Linked DNA regions of Homo sapiens. The protein of the gene in region 1 purifies or fractionates together with the protein of each later gene. This does not show direct contact. Each region holds a gene or a part of one and is shown in the gene's direction. Other genes may lie near its edges.

The links.
Region 2: the proteins of FAH (region 1) and ST8SIA4 purify together in Homo sapiens (co-immunoprecipitation; one large-scale study listed by IntAct). This does not show direct contact.
Region 3: the proteins of FAH (region 1) and TMEM63A purify together in Homo sapiens (co-immunoprecipitation; one large-scale study listed by IntAct). This does not show direct contact.
Region 4: the proteins of FAH (region 1) and ALDH6A1 fractionate together in Homo sapiens (co-fractionation; one large-scale study listed by BioGRID). This does not show direct contact.
Region 5: the proteins of FAH (region 1) and LYPLAL1 fractionate together in Homo sapiens (co-fractionation; one large-scale study listed by BioGRID). This does not show direct contact.

The regions. Positions count from the first base shown.
Region 1 is NC_000015.10:80,158,873-80,163,711, forward strand, and holds part of FAH (fumarylacetoacetase), read left to right. Parts: intron 1-883; coding exon 884-1,005; intron 1,006-1,537; coding exon 1,538-1,587; intron 1,588-3,373; coding exon 3,374-3,464; intron 3,465-4,839.
Region 2 is NC_000005.10:100,807,944-100,812,782, reverse strand, and holds part of ST8SIA4 (CMP-N-acetylneuraminate-poly-alpha-2,8-sialyltransferase isoform a precursor), read left to right. Parts: intron 1-653; coding exon 654-936; 3' UTR 937-4,839. UniProt on the Homo sapiens protein: Catalyzes the transfer of a sialic acid from a CMP-linked sialic acid donor onto a terminal alpha-2,3-, alpha-2,6-, or alpha-2,8-linked sialic acid of an N-linked glycan protein acceptor through alpha-2,8-linkages.
Region 3 is NC_000001.11:225,861,591-225,866,429, reverse strand, and holds part of TMEM63A (mechanosensitive cation channel TMEM63A), read left to right. Parts: intron 1-462; coding exon 463-533; intron 534-3,578; coding exon 3,579-3,659; intron 3,660-3,851; coding exon 3,852-3,975; intron 3,976-4,078; coding exon 4,079-4,212; intron 4,213-4,839. UniProt on the Homo sapiens protein: Mechanosensitive cation channel with low conductance and high activation threshold. In contrast to TMEM63B, does not show phospholipid scramblase activity. Acts as a regulator of lysosomal morphology by mediating lysosomal mechanosensitivity.
Region 4 is NC_000014.9:74,063,069-74,067,907, reverse strand, and holds part of ALDH6A1 (methylmalonate-semialdehyde/malonate-semialdehyde dehydrogenase [acylating], mitochondrial isoform 1 precursor), read left to right. Parts: intron 1-338; coding exon 339-528; intron 529-1,021; coding exon 1,022-1,203; intron 1,204-1,815; exon of another isoform or gene 1,816-2,547; coding exon 2,548-2,727; exon of another isoform or gene 2,728-2,987; coding exon 2,988-3,086; exon of another isoform or gene 3,087-3,119; coding exon of another isoform or gene 3,120-3,220; intron 3,221-4,839. UniProt on the Homo sapiens protein: Malonate and methylmalonate semialdehyde dehydrogenase involved in the catabolism of valine, thymine, and compounds catabolized by way of beta-alanine, including uracil and cytidine.
Region 5 is NC_000001.11:219,176,135-219,180,973, forward strand, and holds part of LYPLAL1 (lysophospholipase-like protein 1), read left to right. Parts: intron 1-3,012; coding exon 3,013-3,112; intron 3,113-3,265; coding exon of another isoform or gene 3,266-3,292; intron 3,293-4,839.

The DNA.
Region 1 (4,839 bases):
GGACTGGAACTCTGACTCTTAGAACCTACAAGGGCTTTTTCTGCTATGCTTCACTGGCTATAAAACCTCTTCCTTTTTTAAATTAAAAAACCTCTCGGCTCACGCCTGTAACCCCAGCACTTTGGGAGGCCGATGTGGGCAGATCACTTGAGGTCAGGAGTTCGAGACCAGCCTGGCCAACATGGTGAAACCCCCTCTCTACTAAAAATACAAAAATTAGCTGGGTGTGGCAGTGCACGCCTGTAATCCCAGCTACTCGGGAGGCTGAGGCAGGAGAACTGCTTGAACCTGGGAAGCAGAGGTTGCAGTGAGCCGAGATCACATCAGTGCACTCCAGCCTGGGTGACAGAATGGGAAAAAAAAAAACAACTTTTTTTTTTTAATAGAGATGAAGTCTCACTATATTGCCCAGGCTGATCTTGAACTCCTGGGCTCAAGTGATCCTCCACCTCGGCCTCCCAATGTGCTGGGATTACAGGCATGAGCCATCACACCTGGCCCAAAACCTCTTCTTAACTGATGTGAAAGGAATTAGTTTAGGCTGTGATCACTCTGCAGACTGGAGTGTGCCTCTACTGGAAGAACATGGCCACCTTCAACTGTGGGCCGGGCCAAGCTTAGCACAGTTGCTGTGCCAGGTAGCAACTCCTGGGCTTGGACAATTGTGTGCAGGTGCACGAGGGCCTGAGGCAACGTCAAGAGAGGATATGCTTTTCTCCAGGTTGATGAATAAATGACAAAACTAAGAGCAGAGGTCCTGAGAGTTTGAGTTAGCGGGAGAGAAGTGGCAAGGGCTGGCAGGCTGGCTGGCCTTCCATTGGAAGGAGGGATACTCCCTGGGTTTTCCTGTACGTGATCTTTTTTCTCCCTGTTTTGGTCTTAGCCTACACTCAACAGCTTCATGGGCCTGGGTCAGGCTGCCTGGAAGGAGGCGAGAGTGTTCTTGCAGAACTTGCTGTCTGTGAGCCAAGCCAGGCTCAGAGATGACACCGAACTTCGGAAGTGGTGAGAAGCACGTGGTCATAGGGGGGATGAGGGGATGCAGCAGGGGAGGTGAAGGCTGTGTGGTTATCAGTGCCATTCTGAGTCACGGCTTGGCAGCCTTAGTGTGGCCAAGTCAGACCTGCCCTCATCCAGCCCCTGCCTGAGCTGCCTATTGATGGGAGGGCTTTGGGAGGACTGGGATTGCCTTGGCGCCTGGAATGGAGCTGCCCAAGCTAGGCCAGGCCAGGCCCATTGGCCCTCTCTCTTACTCAGGCTGTCCTCATTAGCATCATCTGTGACCTCATCTGGTTTCTAGAGTAGGAAAGAGTTTCCACTTGTCTAGTCCCATTTCCTAGGGTAGAATATAGAAACGGCTTCAGTGGGTGGATGTCCTCTCAGCTGTGAAAGGTTCAGCATAGCTCTGGCCCCAGGCCAGCCAGAAGGTGCCCACTGGAGATTGTGGATAATCTTGGGGATGGTCTGGGCTGAGCCCGTGGGTGGGACCGCGCTTTGCTGCCTACTTGACTTTGAAGCCCCTGGTTCTGTGTTTCAGTGCATTCATCTCCCAGGCTTCTGCCACGATGCACCTTCCAGCCACCATAGGTGAGTGCAGTCTCTTCACCAAGATAAGAACGGAGCAGCTTCGTGGGCCAAGAGGGCTGGCCAGGTGCTTTGGTTCTGCATCTGTGTGGAGGGTCCCTGCTGGTGGGGGGAGATGGAGGAGGGGCTCTGGGGCTGTTACCCGCTCCTCATCACTGACCTTTCCCAGCATCCAGGCCCGGCATTCACTCAGGCTATTATCTTGCCTCAGGTAGTGAGTTGCAGACTGCTCAAGTTCATGACTAGCCGCATGGCTCCCTGCACAGCAAATTGCTTTCCTTCCCCCAAAGGCTATGGGACAAATTCTCTGAGCTCAGTCTGTGAGTCAGCAGTTTTGAGGATAGAGGCCAGAGGGCTATGAAGGGCCCCAGTTTGAGCACGTGGCAGGATGTCTGGTTGGAGTGTCATTCAGGAAGTTGGAGCTGTTGAAACTCTCAACCTGAAGCAGAGAGAGAGGCTGGCTCAGCCTGCGGCCCAAAGCACAGCCCTCTTCCTTGTGCACAGGTCTCCTCTGCTGGGCTACCTGGGCACCTGTGAGCTGAGGGGCCAGTTGACCCTGCCCCTGGGGTACACTGCCTCTCTGGAACAGCTCCTGCTGTCCGGGGAGAGTCCTTTGCTGCTGGGCTGCTTGGGCTAAGCTGACTGGAGGATGGGGTTGGGGACAGGGGCCGAGTCACCTGCCTCCTCCCAGCCCCTCTCACTCCCCACTCTCATACACTCATGGGACTGTGCTATGTTTTGGCAAACCAGCTGTTGTGCAAACCATATGTCTTTCAGGGATATCATGTCTGGTTGACTGATGGTGCCCTTTCTTGTTTTTTTTTTTTTTTGTTATGGATTTATTCTTTTGAAAAATCTCTCAGCTATTACTTCTGTGCAATGGGACTGAAGATGGGAAGCAGCAGCTAAGGCTCCACCTGCCCTGTGGACTGTTCTTCCTCTCCTCACCCTTCACCATGACTGTTGCTAGTCTAGGCTGTTGGTATTGATGAATATCCAGCATTTTTTTTTTTTGAGGAGACATTTAGGAAGATAAAACAGGCAGACTGTCCCAACTGGTTTTTCTTTCAGATTTTTAATTCTCCGAATGGTAGATATGCCTACAGCTTGCTGGCTAGCCCATTCAGTTCATCATAATCAACAAGCACTGATATGCATCTGCAGTGTGCAAGCCCTTGTCCTTGGCACTCGGGCAGAGTCCAAGAAAATGAGGACTGGGCTGGGGCTGTCCTGGAATGTCCACAGTCTAGCAAAGATGTGCACACACATAACTGGAGCACCAGTGGGAAGCGAAGCCTGCCCCAGAAGGATTCAGGGGAGGGGATTTGGAGGGGGAAGAGATCCTGCTAGAGAGAGCAGGGAGGGCTTCAGGGAGGAGCGGGCCTCAAAGAGTTGCCAGGATTTGAATACACAGGGACAAGGGAGAAGTCAATCAGTATAGGCGTGGTGAGGGAGCCTGTGGGAACTCGGGAATGGCAGTTGTGTGTGGGAAAAGTGGGGAGCCTGAGAAGGGAGGTGGTATCAGCCACTTGGTGTTCACATTCCACTGTCAGTTTCAGAAAGTCTGGACTCCTGATTTCTTATTTGTTTCTCAGCTGAGGGCTCTAAAAACAAATCTTCAGTGAGGATATTTTATATTGCATTTGGTGCTGCCATTGCTGGCTGCAGGCTGAGCTCTGGATGTGTAAACAGTATTGTGTGCACACTCGTGGCTCCAGTGCTTGGAACAGTCCATTCTTCCTGAGGCATGTGGGTTGCTGATGGGATCTGTTGGGTCTTTCCTCTGCAGGAGACTACACAGACTTCTATTCCTCTCGGCAGCATGCTACCAACGTCGGAATCATGTTCAGGGACAAGGAGAATGCGTTGATGCCAAATTGGTATGAACTGGGCCAAATGTCTGCATAAGTTCAAAGTCTTTCTTTTCATTTCCAGCAGCATATTTGTCTCAGGAGCTGCCAAGTTCTTCTTAAAGTAAACTGGGGAGGAAAAGCAGTTATGATGTTGCAACCTCTGGAAGCAGTGGTCTCAGCTTCTGGTCTCCTGCTCAGCTTGGCTTAGGACTTGCTGTGGGATCGAAGGGCAAGTCCCTTAAACTTCCTTGGACAGCAGGGGTTGGAATTAGATTCCCTTAATCCCTATGCTCCTTCTGGAGTCTTTCATTTATAAGCTGTGTATTATTGTACTATGGGCAAGTCTTAGACTCTAGCATGCTCCATACTTACATTTTCTGATGAATGAGAATCCTCAAATGTGCCCAGTGCTGTATATTCCTCAACATGTGATCGGTTTCATTCATTTGTTTGATCCTCGTAGTAGTTCTCTGATGTCACAAGGCCATGATTGTAAGCCCCATTTTACAGACAGGAAAATGGGCTCAGAGAAGGATCAACTTGCCTGAGCACAACAGGGCCACAGCCTGTCTCCCAGCCCCCAGATCAGGCCATTGACCAAGCTGAGGATGCAGAGCTGGGATCCTTGCCCTTTGTTCTGTGTTGTCCCCTGGATGTGATGGTTCCTTGGAACTGAAGAGGGCCTGGACTCAGTGGCAGGCATACACTCCAGGCCCCAGTGCCATCAGTCACACACAGGAGCTGGGTTAGGGACGGGGCTTTACTCTCTCTCGAGTGAGTGTCTCCAGTAGGCTATGCCATGAGGGGAGGGTCTGTTAGAACCAAGATGAGGAAGAAAGAAAGGGAGAGAGAGCAGTTCCAAGCCAGAGATGTTGAACAACAAGGCCAAGGTTGCAGAATGAGGCAGGGGTGAATCTGAGACCAGAACCCAGGCTCCAGGTTCCAGGCTTCCACGTGAGATGCGCAAATATTTGAGAATCTTGCACTGTACAGGCTCCAGGCTGTATTTGTCCCCAGCCAGCTTCAACTTGTCTATCTGATGGGCTGAGTGTCTATATGAGTGTCCTTGGCAGTGATGACCCAGTGGACTGCCCAGCCCCAGAAGAGCTGGCTGTCACCTGTGTGCCAGGATCCCAGTGGCCAAAGGGCAGGGGCACCAGGAAGTGAGAGGAGAGCCGGGACCTGGGAAATGAGTGTTGACTGTGTCTGAAACCGAGTGTGGGGGCCGCAGCCATCCTTGCCCCATGTCCTTCTGCAGAATAAGAGTAAACAGGCCTTCTCTAGCCATGTTTGATGCAAGATGGCCCACAGCTGTGACTTTTTAGCTTTATGTACATAGTCTTTATTATAAAGGTAACATATATTTACTGGAATTAACCCAAACACTACAGAAAATATGTAA
Region 2 (4,839 bases), on another chromosome or scaffold:
TATCAGCATTGAAATATATTTTATCTATCTAACAAAATGTTAAATTGCATAACTGGAAAACTATCAATTATTCTACAACTTTTTTTTATTGTTGTTCTTATGTGAGTGGAAGTGAGGCTTCTAATTTGCTTTAGTAAATTGTGACTTGGAAAATTGGAGCTGAATAAATCAGTTGATATAACATAGATAAAGCATTTATTTCTTTGGATTTTTAATTGCAATATCTTACATTTTGAAAATCTATAGGCATAGTTTCAAACTTTTTTTTCTGGGAGGATTACTTAATCTCTACCCAATTACCATGACTTCTGCAGTTGTATTTAATCCTTTTTGAGAAAATTTTACTCTGCATGTTATATAAATGTTTGCTATTATTCATTTCAAAGGTGAGATTCTAGAGTAATATTCACCTACATTCCAGGTCCCTTGGGTATTTATATGACCTCAAGAATAAGAAAGAAAATAAAGGATAAAGAAGAAATAAAATAAAAGCATCAAATTTTCTAAATGCTTAAAAATATTTCTTCAGTAATTCTTTAAAATATTATTCATAAAGATACCTTTTAAGTTTTCTGCATTATATACTTGCTATAGGATATGCTCTATGTGTGTCTAAATTCTTCTCTTCTTGATTTTGTTTTTTGTTTTTCCAGTTACTGGCTGACCAACAAAGTTCCTATCAAAAGACCCAGCACAGGTCTTCTCATGTATACACTTGCCACAAGATTCTGTGATGAAATTCACCTGTATGGATTCTGGCCCTTCCCTAAGGATTTAAATGGAAAAGCGGTCAAATATCATTATTATGATGACTTAAAATATAGGTACTTTTCCAATGCAAGCCCTCACAGAATGCCATTAGAATTCAAAACATTAAATGTGCTACATAATAGAGGAGCTCTAAAACTGACAACAGGAAAGTGTGTAAAGCAATAAAGCACATTTTGAAACAAACAATATGCACTTCTTTTCTGAAGATGCTTCCGAAGATTTGAAAATAGGATCCAAAACACGGCTGGGTTTCAGCATCCACCAATGAACTGAAAGGTGAATAAAGGACGTTCATGAGAAATCGACTACCAGCTGATGAAATACCTGCAAAGTGCTCTAAAAATTAAATATTTTGACTTTAAGGGTCCTAGTAAGTGCCACTTCCACTAAGAATACAGTTTGAATGTATAATCAGTAGTGTTTACAAGATCCAACAGTGCACTCATCATTAGTTAACAAAGCAAATATGTTCATCACTGTCAGGCTGCCCACAGCAACACCAAGCATATTAGAAGAGGAACCCCAGGAACGCAACTCAGACCTTGGGAAATTAAACCATCCTTGTCAGCAGAAGCCAAGATGGAAGCAGTTTGAGCAATGAAATCCGTAAGATTAAACAACTCAAGTAAATGCTTCAGTCAGGACTCTGAGTCTGATCATGAATTTTATGTTTTAATTTATGTTTTTTTTTTGTCTTCTGGAATCTCTTTTGGTTTGGATATTGGGATGCTTAGAAATCCTTTCTGAGATGCATATGAGTGAGGAAATAAACTTTAAGTAATTATTTTTAAAGTTCTTATACTTTTTAAAAGCTATCACACAAAGACTTTTTTTTTTTTTTTTGTCTCGCTCTGTTGCCCAGGCTGGAGTACAGTGGCGCGATCTCAGCTCACTGCAAGCTCCGCCTCCCAAGTTCACTCCATTCTCCTGCCTCAGCCTCCGGAGTAGCTGGGACTGCAGGCGCCTGCCACCACGCCTGGCTAATTTTTTGTATTTTTAGTGGAGACGGATTTTCACCGTGTTAGCCAGGATGGTCTCAATCTCCTGACCTCGTGATCCACCCGCCTTGGCCTCCCAAAGTGCTGGGATTACAGGCGTGAGCCACCGTGCCTGGCCGACATTTTTAAAAAAGTTTTATTTTGCACGGCTCTAAACCTCCATGTTATTTTCCAGTGGTGTAGAAGGTACCAGCTAAAGTGAACCACTATGTAATATTAGGCCATTCTAAAGGAAAGATGTTCCATGTCATCAGAGATGGTAAAATAGGCCGGGAAAAAAAAATCTTTGGTACCAAAGATTACACTTGTGTTTCTACACAGCAAACCATTTTTCTTTCATGAAAATAATATATTATTAACATGAATATATTATTTTGCTATTAATGTGAAAGTTGTCTCTAAATATTTTTTAATTTTCAAACTCATACTTTATTTTCATTTGAAATGTTTTTCACACCTTTTGCATTACATAATAATTTTGTGGAAGCATTTTGCCCTTTAGAATAAATATTAGATTGATATAGCTGAAATGTGACTTCCAGTTCTTTGATATTCCCCTTGTTATTCAAATAGAAATATGGAAATGCTTTATATATTACTGTTAAATTTCTTAGTGCAGAAATAACATTATTAATAGAGTATTGTTTTCAAAACAGAGATGATTAATTTCAAGAGGTTTAACAGTGAAATTGTGTCAATATTTTGCATTTAAAATGAATTTAATTGACCGATATTTTCTGTAGTTAAATTTAGTCACAATATCACATATGTTCTTCAAGAAACACATGAAATTATTAATAAAGTAATTAAAAAATTTTTAATGTATAACAGAATTGACCAATAGGCCAGTTTTCTGGTAACTTATGATAGTAGATTGTTTCTTTAGAAACTGGGCAGAAGCTCTGCATTCTCACTTGTACTTTGATTTCTTATTTCTTGGGCAGGCAATTTGAGGAAAGAAGAAATGGCATGGGGAATATATATGTTTTGTTTCTTAGGGAAAACAGTCTGAGAAATGAATAAAAAGCATGAAGTACGTGTGTGTGTGTGTGTGTTACCATGGAAAAGGATATTCACAGTAGTACAGTTCTCAATATTTTTAATTAGATGTCATATTTTTTTAATATAGTAAAACCTTGGGATATAGAATATTACATCTTTTGAGAATGTATGTGTCTCTAAGTAAGTAAAATCTAATGCGTATAGGAGACTGATAGCTAAAAATGAATGGAACATTAATGTACTTTTATAATTAAACCTCTTATCTATCAGAAATTGTAAGAGAATAGATACATGTTTTGAATGTAAAGTTGAAAAGTCTGGTTTACTTAATAAATTGAAAGTGATTTATAAAATCTAAATTTGGACTACTTGCAAATGATAAGCTATTCTAGTAGCCTTTAGTTTAAATCCAACAGAAATCTAGAAGTCACAAGCAAATATCTTAAAGGTAAAATCCATCTGGGCACTCATTTAAAGTATATCTTAAAAAAGCAGCAGCAAGGTACCTTGCCATTTTTAGCATATTTTCTTCCTTTTTCTTTTTTCTTTTTTTTTTTTTTTTGAGATGGAGTCTCACTCTGTCACACAGGCTGGAATGCAGTGATGCCATCTCAGCTCACTGCAACCTCCACCTCCTGGGTTCAAGTGATTCTCGTGCCTCAGCCTCCCAAGTAGCTGGGGTTACAGGCGCCCACCACCACACTCGGCTAATTTTGTGTTTTTAGTAGAGACAAAGTTTCACCATGTTGGCCAGGCTGGTCTTGAACTTCCTGACCTCAGGTTATCCACCCACCTCAGCCTCCCAAAGTGCTGGGATTACAGGTGTGAGCCACCGCAGCCGGACCATTTTTAGTATATTTTCAGTAAATACATTTAAACAATGTTAAGGCCACAGCACACATATCTCAGCCATTCATTGTTCTGTGCATTGATGTTTATCTCATAGATGCATTGAGTAGTGCCTTTTTAGCTTTTTCACATTACTTTGTCACCATATCCTTTGTGTTCTCTAAATACATTGCCCACTTCCAAAAATGTTCAGCATGAAAAAAAGGGCTTCAGTGTCGATTGAGATTGCTTTTGTTCATCTCAGGGATTTCAATAGTCAAGAATGAATTCAGTTAAAGGTATTTAGGGTTCAAAGAAGACAAACTGTACAAGCCCATTTCATTCCTTGTTGTATACCTTTCCATCTGCCCTCCCATTTTAACTATCTACTGTGGCCTTTTTATGGAAACAGAGCAAGATCAATGAAGGCTAATGGCAAGAATAAGAAAAAGAGTTGAGATTTAACCAATAGCGGAGCATAAAGGATCATGACAAAATCAAATTATAAAAGCATACTTGAAATAGGTGGAGCTTTTTCTTTTGAAAATATATATTCACAATTTTAATATTTTAATTTATTTTTTACTATTTAACCCTGTACTTGGCAATGCTCAGGCAGCTGATTGTGAAATATTCTTGTCCTTTACAGAACATGGTTGTTATTGTGCTGTTGACATGAATAGACCATGGAAACATTTTCATCATTATTATTCAGCCTGTGCTGTAGTTAATGTTAAGTTGCTGAAATAAAAAGTGAGCAAGTAATAGATTTTCTTGGCAAATCTAATGATTCAGCCCACAGGACTGTTGAAACTACTGCGGAAGTTTTTCTATCTGAAAGAAGGTGCTGGGCATTCAAATGTGTTCATGTATTGTATATCATATGAATTGTATATCAATTACTAATGGGAATTTCTACATATATGCTTACAAAAGCAATTTATTTAAGTAATGCTAGGGGTAGTGTACATACCAATTAGTTATTCAGCTACTATACAGAAAAAGGATGAACAAATTAATTTATTTCTAATTGAGCCAGTTAGACATAATGCATATAACGTGATATTTGGTTCATGAAAGAGTTGTTTTCATGTGGTTATTGTAGGGAGTATATATAATTGTGGAAGGGGTATGGGAAGAGTTGTGTATAGTTAGTTGTTATCTCTACAAGTTTGAAAGTTTTCCCATCAAACATTATCAATATACCAATGTTTTAAAAATTGAGTGAGGGTTATTATTT
Region 3 (4,839 bases), on another chromosome or scaffold:
ACACTTGGCACCATCTTTAAAAAAAACAGTTTCCTGGTGGATTGTTTCAAGATTTGGACAGTTACTGGTGCTAAGTAAAGAAATTTGGGTTGAGAGCAGCCCTTTCTCTTTGCCGCCCACAGCTTCACAGGGGAGGGGAGCTTCTGTGGCTTGGTTCCAGGCCTGGGTCCTCCTCTGATCTGCTGTGTGACCGCATTTGAGTCACTTCCCCTCTTTCTCAGTCTCCTGCCATGCAAAGAAGGCTCATAGAGTTGCTTTGGAAGTGGATTCTTTGTACAGCCTGGAAGAAGACGCTGTGTAAATGACATGCTTTGGGGGCTCCCCCGGCCACAGAAGGAGAAAACTGGAGCCTTCTGATTTCCTGTTGTTTACTTTCCAGAGGCTGGAGTTGGGTAGGAAACCTGAGCATACCGGCACACTGGCTTGTGGGTGACTTCTCTCCCTGCTGTATTTCCCGGACAGGTGAGGCGGACCCTGTTCATCACAGGACTCCCCAGAGATGCCAGGAAGGAGACTGTGGAGAGCCACTTCCGGTAAGCAGGTGGGGTGGGAGGGGAGCTGAGCCCCCTCCACGTAGGACCAACACAGCCCCACCCGCAGGGCGAGCACCTTAGGTGAGCGCCTTCTGTCTCTCGCTTGGGTATCCAGGTGAGATCTGAGAAGGACCTGGCCCTGCCACACGTGTATGGAGTGGCTCCTGTGTGCCAGCCCTGCTGGTGCTGTGCAGTGAATAGCGCCCTGGTGGCCTATCCTCTTCAAGCAGCCTGTGCACAGTGTCCAGAGCACAGACCAGGGTGTAGGTGCGAATAAACGTCTTGAGAGCATACGGGGGAAAAAATTGTTGACCCCGGGGTTCTTAGCATCACCTTTGCAGAATAAGAGAGACGTGAGCTGAGCATTTGTATGGACCCACAGGGCTAGGGTCTCACAGGTGGAAGGACCTCGGGGCCATCTCTGCGTTTGTTCGTTTGTCCACCCACTGAGCGGGTGTCTGTTGAGTGAGCACTGTGTCTGAGTCCAGGCTCTCCCTGGTAGAACCTCCTTTCCAGCGGCTCCCTTTGAGTATCTGCACCACCAATTCCTGCAGATGGAGGCTGGAGGAAAGTCTTTCCTGTGAGGAGATTACGTGTGCAGCCAGGGATGCGGGGAAAGGCCCAGAGCATCAGGAAAGGTGGCGGTGGGGTGCAGGGGGGCAGGGCAAGCAGTCCGGGAAGGCTCCCAGGACCCCATGCTGGAGGACCTGAAGGCTGGGCTGAGGAGCTGACATTTTATTCTTTCTTCATTCCTTTTTTTGTAATCTTATTTTTTTAGAGACAGGGTCTTGCTCTGTTGCCCAGGCTAGAGTTCAGTAGTGCAATAATAGCTTACTGCGGCCTCAACTCCTGGACTTAAGGCATCTTCCTGCCTCAGCCTCCCAAGTAGCTGGGACTGCAGACACATGGCACCACACCCAGCTAATTTTTAAATTTTTTATGGAGATAGAGTCTTGCTATGTTGCCCAGGCTGGTCTCGAATTGCTGGGCTCAAGTGATCCTCCTGCCTTGCCCTCCCAAAGTGCTGGGATTACAGGCGTGAGCCACCATGCCCGGCCTCTCTTCATTCCTTATCAATACAGCAGCCACTAATTTGTTGCATGGACTAGGAGTTGGCTGCACTTTAACTTTGCACTATTTGTGAAGAAAGCACTTGCTAAGCAAATTGCTAGACAGGATCGTAAACTGAATGTTTAAAATTTGAAAAACTTCTTCAGAAACTCTAAGTATTTTAGAAATATTTACTAATATGTAAATACTCAATACCAGAATCATTTTTCTGTATTTCCTTGAAGCAACTCCTCAAAGTTGCCTGCTAGGCAACACCTGGAAACAGTAATTCCACTTAATGTATAACTTTAAAGAGAAAAAAAAAGTCTCCTCATTCTCATACAAACATTGCATGACTCATGCTTTCCCCTATTTTAAGAGGCCTTTTTAGTGAATGCTGTTGCAGTCCGTGGGGATTGATGTATGAATTTGCCTTTCAAGCAGGGATGCTTAAATTGCAGTTTTCTTCCTCACAGCTCTTATTGAGACCAGAAATTGTCCTACTGTTTAATTTCATGATTGATATACCTATGGGCTGTCTCTCTCACTAAAATGTAAGCACATCCAGGCCCTGTTACCAGCACCTAGAACAGTGCCTGGCAGGTGGTAGGTGGGGATTTACATGGTTCTGGAATCCCCTGGAATTGTATGTATAATTTTGCGTGTATGGTGAGGGGGTATTGCATGGTGGCCATGAGCATTGACCTTGGAGCCAGGTTGCCTGTATTCACCTCCTGGCTCAGACACTCACTAGCTGTGTGATCTTGGGCACAAGCCACTTACCTCTGTCGGCCTCAGTTTACTCATCTGTAAAATGGGGACAAAACCTCACAGGTTATGATGAGGATTAAATAAATAAATATATGTAACAATACCTGGTCAATAGTGAGTATGTATTTTGCTGGGTTTTTTTTTTTTTTTTTTTTTTTTTTGAGACGGAGTCTCACTCTGTTGCCCAGGCTGGAGTGCAGTGGGGCAATCTTGCTCACTGCAACCTCTGCCTCCCAGGTTCAAGTGATTCTCGTGCCCCAGCCTCCCAAGTAGCTGGATTACAGGTGTGTGCCACCACACCTGGCTAATTTTTGTATTTTTAGTAGAGACAGCGTTTCACCACATTGGCCAGGCTGGTCGCAAACTCCTGACCTCAAGTGATCCACCCGGCTCAGCCTCCCGAAGTGCTGGGATTACAGGCATGAGCCACCGCACCTGGCCTTGCTGGTTGTTAATATGTGTGTAGATATTTTCTGGTCTGAGGGTCCTTTGCTTTCATTAGACCCTCTGAAAGGTCTGTGACCTTAAAAAAGGCTACCTGAATAGGATTTCAGTGATGGCTCAAGGTAGATACTGACCTAGCACAAACAATAAATCTGTTCCTTTGGGTCTTTAGAGGGGATAGTGATGTGTTCATTTTTCCCCAGGAGAAGTGCCAGCTGATTCCAAGCCAAGTGGGTATAAACTTGTCAGTTCCAGGCAGTTAGCTTCATACTACTAAAAAAGGCTAGCGGGGTGCAGTGACTCACGCCTACAATCCCAGCACTTTGGGAGGGTGAGACAGGAGGAGTGCTTGAGGCCAGAAGTTCGAAATCAGCCTGGGCAACATAGCGAGACCCCGTCTCTACAAAAAATAAAAATCAGCCTGGTGGCATGTGCCTGTAGCCCCAGCTACTCAGGAGGCTGAGGTGGGAGGATTGATTGAGCCCAGAAGGTTGAGGCTACAGTGAGCCATGATTGTGCCACTGTACAGCAGCCTGGGTGACAGAGTGAGACCCTGTCTCTAAACAAAACAAAACAAAACAAAAGCCCTCTTTGTATTAAATTTCAAAATTTCCCCCTTTTGGAGGATAAAAGACAAAGAGAAGAGAGGTCTCCGCTGGCACAGAAACCAGCAGCGAGATCACTCTGCCATCCTTTCCCTTGGATCCGTGGGCACGTCTCCTGCTTGGGGTGTTTTCTTTTCCAACGGTGTCTTTTGCCTCCTTCTCTCCCTGGCCACAGGGACGCGTATCCCACGTGTGAGGTGGTTGATGTGCAGCTGTGCTACAACGTGGCCAAACTGATCTACCTGTGCAAGGAGAAGTGAGTGGTGGGCGGGCCTTGCAAGATGCCCCCTCCTTCCTTGCTGGCCTCGCATCTCCCAGCTAGGAAGGGAGGCGGGAGGCCCTGGACCCCTCCTTCTCCCCTGGCGTTCGATGGTTGAACTGTGGGTATGGGGGTCCCTGCCACAGGATTCTAAATCTGAGGTTTGTGCCCCCGCTCCCACCCCTACAGAAAGAAGACTGAGAAGAGCCTGACCTATTACACAAACCTGCAGGTGAAGACAGGCCAGCGGACCCTCATCAACCCCAAGCCCTGTGGCCAGTTTTGCTGCTGTGAAGTGCTGGGCTGTGAGTGGGTAAGGGTCCCACCCCCCGGCTGGGAGCAGAGGCATTGGCATCGGGGTGCCCCAGATACCAGCATGGGGCCACGTCATCCCAATGGGATGTGTCTTGTGGCAGGAAGACGCCATCTCTTACTACACACGGATGAAGGACAGGCTGCTGGAGAGGATCACAGAGGAAGAACGCCACGTCCAGGACCAGCCCCTGGGAATGGCCTTCGTCACCTTCCAGGAGAAGTCCATGGCCACCTAGTGAGTGTAGGCACATCCAGACCCCTTCTTGGCTGACTCCCTGTTCCCCTCCAGATAACTCACTGTCCCTCTCGAGTGGAGATGGTACTGCTGACCCACCATCCCTGGGATTTATCTGTGGTGTTTCCTTCTCCTCCCTCAGCTACCCACACTCACTTTCAGCCAGCCCAGCCCATGTTTGTGTAACAGGCGGTGGGGGTGTGGGCAGCAGCCACGGAGTGGGTGATTCTGGCTGACCCCCTCGAGCTGATGTGGCCTGGCCCCACTGCTGGGCTCTTCCCTGCTGCCCTGGACCCATCCTGTTGGCTTCATGTGCCAGCCTTGCCCCAGGGGAGATGGAGGCACCCTCCTTTCAGACATCTGCTCTGGGCCACAGATCCTTCTGTCTGTGGCTCCCCACCTTCCCACAAATGCAAAGCTGTGGGGAAGACCCCTGGGGCACGCTGGGGCGCTCACTGCAGTGGGGAGCTTGACCCTGGGGAGTGGCTTTTCACAGTGGCCCTTGGCATGGGACTCTAGGCTCTCATGCCTGTGGTCTCAGTGTCATCTCGCCTTAGGAGCAGCACAGGGTGGGTCGGGAGAGGGGTGTGGAAAGGTGTCCAGCCACTGCCCCAGGCATTGTGACAC
Region 4 (4,839 bases), on another chromosome or scaffold:
TGTCACCCAGTCTGGAGTACAATGGTGTGATCTTGGCTCACTGCAACCTCCGCCTCCCAGGATCAAGTGGTCCCCCTACCTCAGCTTCCCAAGTAGCTGGGACCACAGACTGGTGCCATTATGCCTGGCTAATTTTTTGTATTTTTTGTAGAGATGGTGTTTCACTATGTTGCCTAGGCTGGTCTTGAACTCCTGACCTCAAGTTATCCTTCTCACCTCAGCCTTCCAAAGTGCTGGGATTACAGGCATTAGCCACCACACCTGGTCCACTGCTTAATTTCTTAGCTTAGTTGTATTTGGCCAAGGAAGACTCATGTGCTTTCTGCATTTTTTTTTAGGGAGCCAAGAACCATGGGGTAGTCATGCCAGATGCCAATAAGGAAAATACCCTGAACCAGCTGGTTGGGGCAGCATTTGGAGCTGCTGGTCAGCGCTGCATGGCTCTTTCAACAGCAGTCCTTGTGGGAGAAGCCAAGAAGTGGCTGCCAGAGCTGGTGGAGCATGCCAAAAACCTGAGAGTCAATGCAGGTAATCAATCACCTGACTTGCCCCCTTAGATTTTGCATCTGTGGCATTAAGCTCTTGGGTTCTGTCACTGGCCTTGGCCAGTGGGAACAATCATGTCTATTCTTGCCATTTCCTCTCTTTATACTGTACTTGTCATTTGGAGTCATCTTGTTAGCAGTCTTTTTTTTTAAAGCACAGGCTGTCTGTTACCCAAGCTGGAGTGCAGTGGCACCATCCTAGCTCATGGCAGCCTCAAACTGTTGGGCTCAAGTGATCCTCCTGCCTCAGCCTCCTGAGCAGCTTGGACCACAGGTGCGGGCCACCACCTGGCTAATTTTTTTATTTTTTGTAAATATGAAGTCTCACTTTGTTGCCCAGGCTGGTCTGGAACTCCTGGGCTCAAGCAGTCCTCCTGCCTTGGCCTCCTAAAGCTTTGGGATTACAGGCATGAGCCCTGGCAGCAGTCATAATTTATGTTAATGAGGACCTTAAATTCTTCTGTGTTGTTTTACAGGAGATCAGCCTGGAGCTGATCTTGGCCCTCTGATCACTCCCCAGGCCAAAGAGCGAGTCTGTAATCTGATTGATAGTGGAACAAAGGAGGGAGCTTCCATCCTTCTTGATGGACGAAAAATTAAAGTGAAAGGCTATGAAAATGGCAACTTTGTTGGACCAACCATCATCTCGAATGTCAAGGTGAACAACTTTCACTTCACAAATATGAGAGCTGAAGGCACCTTAAAGGCTATAGAATCTCATCCCTCTAATTTATTAATGAAAATACTTAATGACTAAGACCTTATCTCTTGCCAGGATTGATCAATTATTTTATCTGGAGTCTGAATGAGCCTCTCCTTCTAACTCCCAACCAAACTCTTTCCACTATACCAGCAGTCTGCAGACTTTCCATAAAGGGATAGATATTTCCAGCTTTGCAGGGATATAGTGTCTGTTGCAACTAAACTCTGACATTGTAGTGTGAGATCAGCTATAAACATTGTGTGGCTGTGTTCCAAAAAAAATGTTATTTATGGACACTGATATTTGAATTTCATATCATTTTATATATGATTAATTTTTTTTCAACCATTTAAAAATGCAAAAACCATTTTTAACTTGGGGCTGTACAAAAACAGGCAGGAAGCCACATTTGGCCCACAGGCTATAGTTTGCCAAACGCTATCTTATCTTATACTGGTTTGTTAATGTTTTCTCTCCCCTCTCCCTCTTGCTGCCTAGCTTATGGCTACTGCAGTGTCTCAATCAATATATCAACCACCCAATATTTATTGAAAGTGACAAAAATAATTGACTTGTCAATTTTTATTTATCAAAACTTTGAAAGTCTCTCAGCTAACATGACTTAAAAATTGAGGTTATGAGGCATTTTTTGAAATTCATATATCCTTACTATAATAGTGAATCATCAAGTGTTGAATGTAAGTGCAGTAGAAATTATGAAATCTCTTGCCACAGAACCATACAGAAAAATCCGTTTATCAGCAACAAACATTAATTGCATGGTGAAGGATGTTTTGAGTGTCTGCGACCTGATATCAAAATATAAACATACAGACATATTTGGGAGGCAAAGGAGTGAATAAGAATGGATTATTTATGTTACAGAAAACAGCATGGGGTTTCTGTAAAGAGAAAAATTATCCTGGTATATTTACTATAGATTGGATTTATAAAAAATAAATTTTCATGTAACTTTTTGATAACAATTGGATGAAACTAGTCGTTCAGGTATTAAAAAGGCAGCTGATGATGGGTCATGAACTAAAGATACAGTCCCTTAAAGGAAGTGTGGTTATTGTTGATAGGAATTCCAAGTTGTTTATATGATTGGTAACTTGGAAGACGGAATACACTTGAGAGAGGACTTTTTTTTTAAATAGGTGATTTGAAATGAAAAGAGATTAGTAATATGAAAGTTGTCCACGTAAATGATGTGTAGTAAGTGAAAGTACCAAATAAGCATAAAATACTCAGAATCCAAAAAGCTGACTTCTTTTCTGGATGCATCACTCCTGGCAGCCAAATATGACCTGTTACAAAGAGGAGATTTTTGGTCCAGTTCTTGTGGTTCTGGAGACAGAAACATTGGATGAAGCCATCCAGATTGTAAATAACAACCCATATGGAAATGGAACTGCCATCTTCACCACCAATGGAGCCACTGCTCGGAAATATGCCCACTTGGTGGATGTTGGACAGGTTCGTGAACAGAATTTTTAAGAGATTCTTATATCCATTTACTATTTCCTAAGAGGAAACAGTAAATAATGGTGAGTCATTGGTTTAAGATTGCCCCCATGACCTCCCACATTGCCCCATTTCTTCCTCAGGAATGAAAGTTCATGGGGTAGAGGATAGGGTAGAAGGTGGGTATTTAAAACTGGTCTCTGATGCCTTTGTGTTTCTAAATGGAGAGTTCCTTTGTCCTTAGGATATGACACGGATTTGTTCTGTTTTAGGTGGGAGTGAATGTCCCCATTCCAGTGCCTTTGCCAATGTTCTCATTCACCGGCTCTCGATCCTCCTTCAGGGGAGACACCAATTTCTATGGCAAACAGGTAACTTTTGAGTTAAATTTTTTGTCTTTTCCTTTAAGAAATTTTCTTAAAGATATTCAGGAGCAAGGATTCTGCAAGGAAGGGACTGCCAGCAGCATCTGTGAGGTCATAATCAGTGCTTCTCAGAAGGTTCCCTAAAAAAGATTTAAAAGTTAACAAAATTTTGCCAAAGCTGCTTCTTCCTGAATAATTCAAAGCAACAAAGTTTTGAGGAAAGAGCATGGGGAAGTCTAAGCCTTTGTATATGCCATTTCCTGAGTGTGTGACCCTCTTCCCCATCTCTCCCCTTTCATCTGACTAACTCCTAATCATCTGTCATGTCTCACTTTAAAAAATGAGCTCCTCCAGAAAATCTCCTCCAACTACCACCACCCCTCCCTCAGTGCTGGGTAGTGTGACCCCAGTGTGTTCCCATTGCACGTATTTTTTCTGTAATAGTTATTCATTTACAAAAAATGTTGTTGAGCACGTTCTTTGTAGCAGACATTATTATTACTATTATTATTATTATTTTTTTTTTTTTTGAGACACAGTCTCGCTCTGTTGCCCAGGCTGGAGTGCTGTGGCATGGTCTTAGCTCACTGCAACCTCCGCCTCCTGGGTTCAAGCACTTCTCCTGCCTCAGCCTCCCGAATAGCTGGGACTACAGGTGCCTGCCACCATGCCTGGATAATTTTTTGTTTTTTAGTAGAGACAGGGTTTCACCATGTTGGCCAGGCTGGTCTTGAACTCCTGACCTTGTGATCCACCCACCTCAGCCTCCCAAAGCACTGGGATTACAGGTGTGAGCCACTCTGCCCGGTCTGTAGCAGACATTATTTTAGGCACTATGAATACAGCACTGAACAAGAAAAGTAAAGCAGATCTGGAACCAAATTGCCTGTGTTCAAATCCCAGCTAAGCCAGTTATTAGCTGTCTGACTTTGGGGGATACCATTAATTTTTTTTTTTTTTTTGAGACAGAGTCTCACTCTGTCGCACAGGCTGGGGTGCGGTGGCACAATCTTGGCTCACTGCAACCTCCGCCTCCCAGGTTCAAGCAATTCTCCTGCCTCAGCCTCCCAAGTAGCTGGGATTACAGATGCCCACCACCACACTTGGCTAATTTTTGTATTTTTAGTGGAGATAGGGTTTCACCATTTTGGCCAGGCTGGTCTCGAATTCCTGACCTCAGGTGATCCGCCTGCCTCAGCCTCCTAAAGTGCTGGGATTACAGGCATGAGCCACCACAGCCAACCAGGATACCTTCTTTATGCCTTAAATTTATTCACGTATAAAATGAATAACAATAGTACCTATGTATTTCATAACATTGTAAGGACTGAATTATCACTATTGGCCAGGTGCAGTGGCTTACGCCTGTAATCCCAGCACTTTGGGAGGCTGAGGCAGGCAGATCACCTGAAGTCAGGAGTTTGAGACCAATCTGGCCAACATGGCAAAACCCCCTCTACTAAAAATAAAACAATTAGCCAGGTGTGGTGGCAGGTGCCTATAATCCCAGCTACTCGGGAGGCTGAGGCAGAAGAATCCTTTGAATCTGGGAGGCGGAAGTTGCAGTGAGCCGAGATTGCACCACTGGACTCCAGCCTGGGCAACAGAGCAAGACTCCATCTCAAAAAAAAAAAAAAGAAGAATTATTACTATTGCCACATCGGCCAACAGGTGCATATGTCCCGAGGCAGGAAGAAGCATGGCACATTCAGACAGCGGAAATGGGCTGGGGCACAGTGAGCAAATGAGAAGAAAAGGA
Region 5 (4,839 bases), on another chromosome or scaffold:
TGTAGCCAACTTAATTTGAGCCTTTTCTATTAATAAAGTACTAAAGACGGACCTTCTTTTAAGATGATAAAAATAAATGATAGGTTAATGAGTTTTGTTCAGTCTCTCAGATCAGATTAATTCACTCTTATTTGCTCCCATAGGACACTGGTTCTTCTTTCAGTGGTAGTCATCATACTTGTAATTATGTAATGTAATGTCTGTATTCCACACTAAGCTAGTAGGTCCACAAAGCCCAAACCATGTGTCTTGTTTATGGCTTTCTTCTTGTGTGGTAAGGCTCAGCAAGTTGACTGAGTAGCTTCTTGGTAAAGTCACCAGTAAGCTCAGGCTCTATGTCGCTCAATGTAATGGACATTTTCAGTCGTCCTCTTACGTGAACTGTCATCTGCATTCAGCTTTCTTCTCAAAAAACTCTCCTGGTTCTTTTTCTGTCTTGATTTGCTCCTTCTGGTTTCTTTTGCAGACTCATCCTCCTCTACCTGGCCATTAATGATGGGGTTTCTCTAAATTTGGTCCAAGGTCTTTTCACTCTACATTTTTCTCCCTAGGCTAATCACAGAAGTCTCCTAGAGATACCCATTTGTGTCACTGGTGTATAGGTAAAAATAGAACCTTTGAATTTCTGTGGAGATTCATAGATTCTATTTTTGAGCTCTAGACAAGTTCATCTAACTGCCTGATAGACATTCATTCATGAATCCATTCATTCAAGAAATATATCACAGCCTCCATGTGTAAGGCACTGTTCTGTGCTCTGATCATACAGCAATGAAAAAAACAAATCACTGCTCTCATGGAGCTTATGTTCTAATGAAGTAAATAAATACTATAGTAGAAGGTAGTAAGTTTTATGGAAACAAGGAAAGCAGGATAAGGGGATTCTTCCATGGATGAGAAGTTGGAACAGTGTTACAATTTTAAATAAAGTAGTCAGGTTATGCCTCACTGCAAAGATGACAGAAGATGAAACTTCACAGCTAGACTTAGACTTGGCTTTAAAGCCAAGTCGGAGGCTCCAGGGTAGGGTCCTTGACATGTTCAAGGAACAGCAGTAAGGCTAGTGTGTCTGGAGTGAGAAGAATAGGAAGGGATATCCAAGAGGGTACTGGCATCCAGGTAGTGTAGGGCAGGGGTTGGCAAACTTTCTGCAAAAAGTCAGGTAAGCATTTTAGCTTTTGTGGGCCATGTAAGGTCTCTTCCCCATAGTTTTCCCTTCTCTCTCTTTTTGAGAAAGGAGTCTTTAATAATGTAAAACTCATTCTTAGCTTATCCTCCTTAAGGACCCTAGGCTGGATTTTGTCCTCCCCTCTAGCTGTCCATAGTTGCTCAATCAACCCATGGTATAAGACCTTGTATGCATTACAAAGAGGCACCTCACACTCAACCTGTGTATGCCTGTTGCTTATGTTTCCTGTCTAGGCAGGTGTCTAGTATTGTTCACCCAGTTACTCCGGCCAAAAGCCTGTTAGTCATCCATGAGACCTTTTACTGTTGACCCTTTATAACAAATCCGTTGCCAATCTCTATTAATTTTACCACCTAAATTTCTCTAGTATCTGTTTCTATCTACATCATCGCTGTAGTCTAAGCATGAACAGTAGTTTCCTAACTGATCTCTGTACATCTACTTTTGCTCTCTTTCAATTCTGTCTTGACACAGCTTCCAGATTGATCCTTTAGAATCATGCCAACCTTTCTGTCAGAAATATTCATGACTTCTTCATGAACAGATTTGTCACGTTCCTACAGTTTCTCTGGTCTCATTTTATAGACACTGCTCTTTTCATTCTCTGCTTTTCAGTTCTTACATGTCATACTGCTCCCTCTTATCCAGAATCCTGGCACCTGCCCTTTCCTCGCCCTGGGATACTTTTTTCTTCTGCCCTGCACTTCTCACCATCCTGTAGACTTTAGTTCAAACCATTCAGCAACTATATTTGGATACCCAGTTTTTGTCAGTCCTGTTCTAGGCACTATGTGAACAAATAACTCAGATAAAATACATCATAAACTTCCTCTTGCAGAGTTTATAGGCTAGTGCATTTATTGTTGAACTCCATAAACCCAGTCAGTTGTGAATAAAATAAATATTTGCAACACCAAGTGTCTCATTTTTGAAGCAGGTACATTTGCCTTTCACATTTATTTGTGTGATTTTTTGACTAATTTCTGTTTTTCACAATATGCTACACACTCCATGAGAATAGGGACTCTATTCCTCCCTCACCCCACCATCATTGCCTCTCTAGCAGTGAACACAGTGCTTGACACATTAACAGGGATTCAATAGGCAGTTTTTGAACTGATACCTTAATGAGTTAATTGATTAAAAAATTAAAGTTGTGACCTTAATTTCCTCCTCAGGACTCCATAAGATGGACTTATATTTCCTTCCATTTTTTTCTGTAAATACATATACATTAATATTTATATGGCTTTTTATTACTTACCAGCTTTGGAGTAGATAATTCTTCTTTTAGGTCATGTAAACATGTTGTCAAAATTAAATTATGATTTTTTCAAGTTAAAATAAAATTACACTGAACACACATTTTGGACTTTTTTTAACCAAGAAAATTAGGTTCTTCTAACTACAGAAGTTTAACAGTCACTTTAGGAATTTATTACTATTAAGAATATGATAAGAAATGACTATTAAAAGTCACATATAAATACAGAAATAAAATTTTTTTTAGAAAAATCAATTTATTTATTTATTCCTGTACTACCCACTAAACAAATTAGGTAACTTAAAACTTAAGCTTAAACAAGATCTTCAGAGTAATCAATGGTGAAGCCAGGAGTAAAATAATCAAAATTATTGCTAGTTATTGAGACCTAGTTAGTTAATTCATATTAGTAAGTCAGTTTCTATATGGTTATTATGATGTATGGAGCTTTTTTAAATCCTTTATTCCATCCTCTGTGTGACATAAAAGTTTTAGACTGCTTTGAAATGCATTGTATTACTAAAATATTTATTTTAATCTAGATTTTTTGATTCATCAGGTGATTCTGGACAAGGATTAAGAATGTGGATCAAGCAGGTTTTAAATCAAGATTTAACATTCCAACACATAAAAATTATTTATCCAACAGCTCCTCCCAGGTATGCAGTAATTTATCTCACTTGTCAATATAACTCTGTGGCATAAAATATATATAGAGAGATGTGCCAGCTAGGTGTTCTTTAAGCTTAATTTTGTATTTAACATACTTTAAATTAGAGTACTTTGTCCCCAGAATGTATTCTTTATTGCAGTTACACTGTTGGACCAAGTTTTGCCAGGTGAGTAATTTATTCCCTTTCTGTAAAGCATTCCCTAAAGCTCTGAATTTAAACTGTGTCCCAAGCATGGCTTATGTAACTCTGCTTCCTCTTGCCCTGCAGATTGCTCAACTTTCATACTTCTTCCCTACATTCACCCCAAAAGGAAACTTAATAACTCCAACAAGTATAATCTTTCTAATAATTTAGTTAAGCCAGAATTCATAATCTCTGGGAAAGGGTTTTATGGCATTCTTTCCACATTTAAAAGGATTATCAAGAAACAATGTTATGCTTTTTTAATCAGTAAACCAGAATAGGAAGATAGAATTGACTACTTAATAAATATTTAGGTTATATAACCTGTAGGTGTGTGCAAAAAATTCACAGTAATAAAACTGCTATAGTTTTGAGGTCAAACTACTCTTTGTAAATATTAAATTAACATCTGCATAGTCTTTTATTCGGAACACATGCCGTAAATCAGGGATTGGGATTTTTTTTTGGTTAAGTGAAATGATGTGTGGAGCTACGCCCCAATCTGATTTTTCTCATAATCTGTTCTTGATTTTTTTTTGTTTCTTTTTCTTCTTCTTTTTTTATTTTTTCCAGACAGAGTCTCACTCTGTTGCCTAGGCTGGAGTGCAGTGGTGCAGTCTTGGCCCACAGCAGCCTTTGCCTCCCAAGTTCAAAGGATTCTCCTGCCTCAGCCTCCTGCCTAGCTGAGAATACAGGCATGTGACACCACGCCCAGCTAATTTTAAAGACAAGGTTTTGCCATGTTGGCTAGGCTGGTCTGGAACTGTTGACCTGAGGTGATCCACTCACCGCGGCCTCCCAAAAGTGCTGGAATTACAGGCATGAGGCACTGCACCTGGCCTGTTCTTGATTTTTTTCTTATCAGGCATACTATGCAAATGCCTTGCTTTATATTTTCATTAACTTAGTATTAAGGAGAAATAAAACCAGAACTTCAAGGACGTTTTTATATGTACTAATAAGAATTTACTTACTTTAATTGATAGAATTGAAAAAGGGAGAACAAAATGATAATGTAAGACTGAAGACTCAAAGGAGTTATTATTTAAATGTAATTTTAATAGAGTTTAAAAGTTTGGTAATCTAGTTAAAAGACCCAATCACCAGTGGTTATTTTTGTGCTATAAATTGCATGTCTTTGAAAATGTCAAAAAAGCTTCTTGTTACTGATTTTTAGGATAGTTGAAGTTGGAAGGAAGAAACATAGTGGTATTTCTGCAGGGATGAAAGATAAGTTCATTTCTACCTAAATATAAATACAATTGTCTGATTAATCATAAGACCACTGAAAACCTTATTCTAGGAATTAATATTTTTTATCTTAAGAATTTCATGTCATTACCAATTGTGATAGGAATTCTAGGCAGTATTTCTCAAACTTTAGGCCAGAGTTATTTCAGAAAATCCAAAAATCTCCATGTGCACTAAGCATTATTTGTGGGTGCTGTTGTGATTTAGTAAAATATGAAATCATTGGACCAGCTTCATGGTAACTTTTTGTTACACAGTTTTATAACCAATAGCTATTT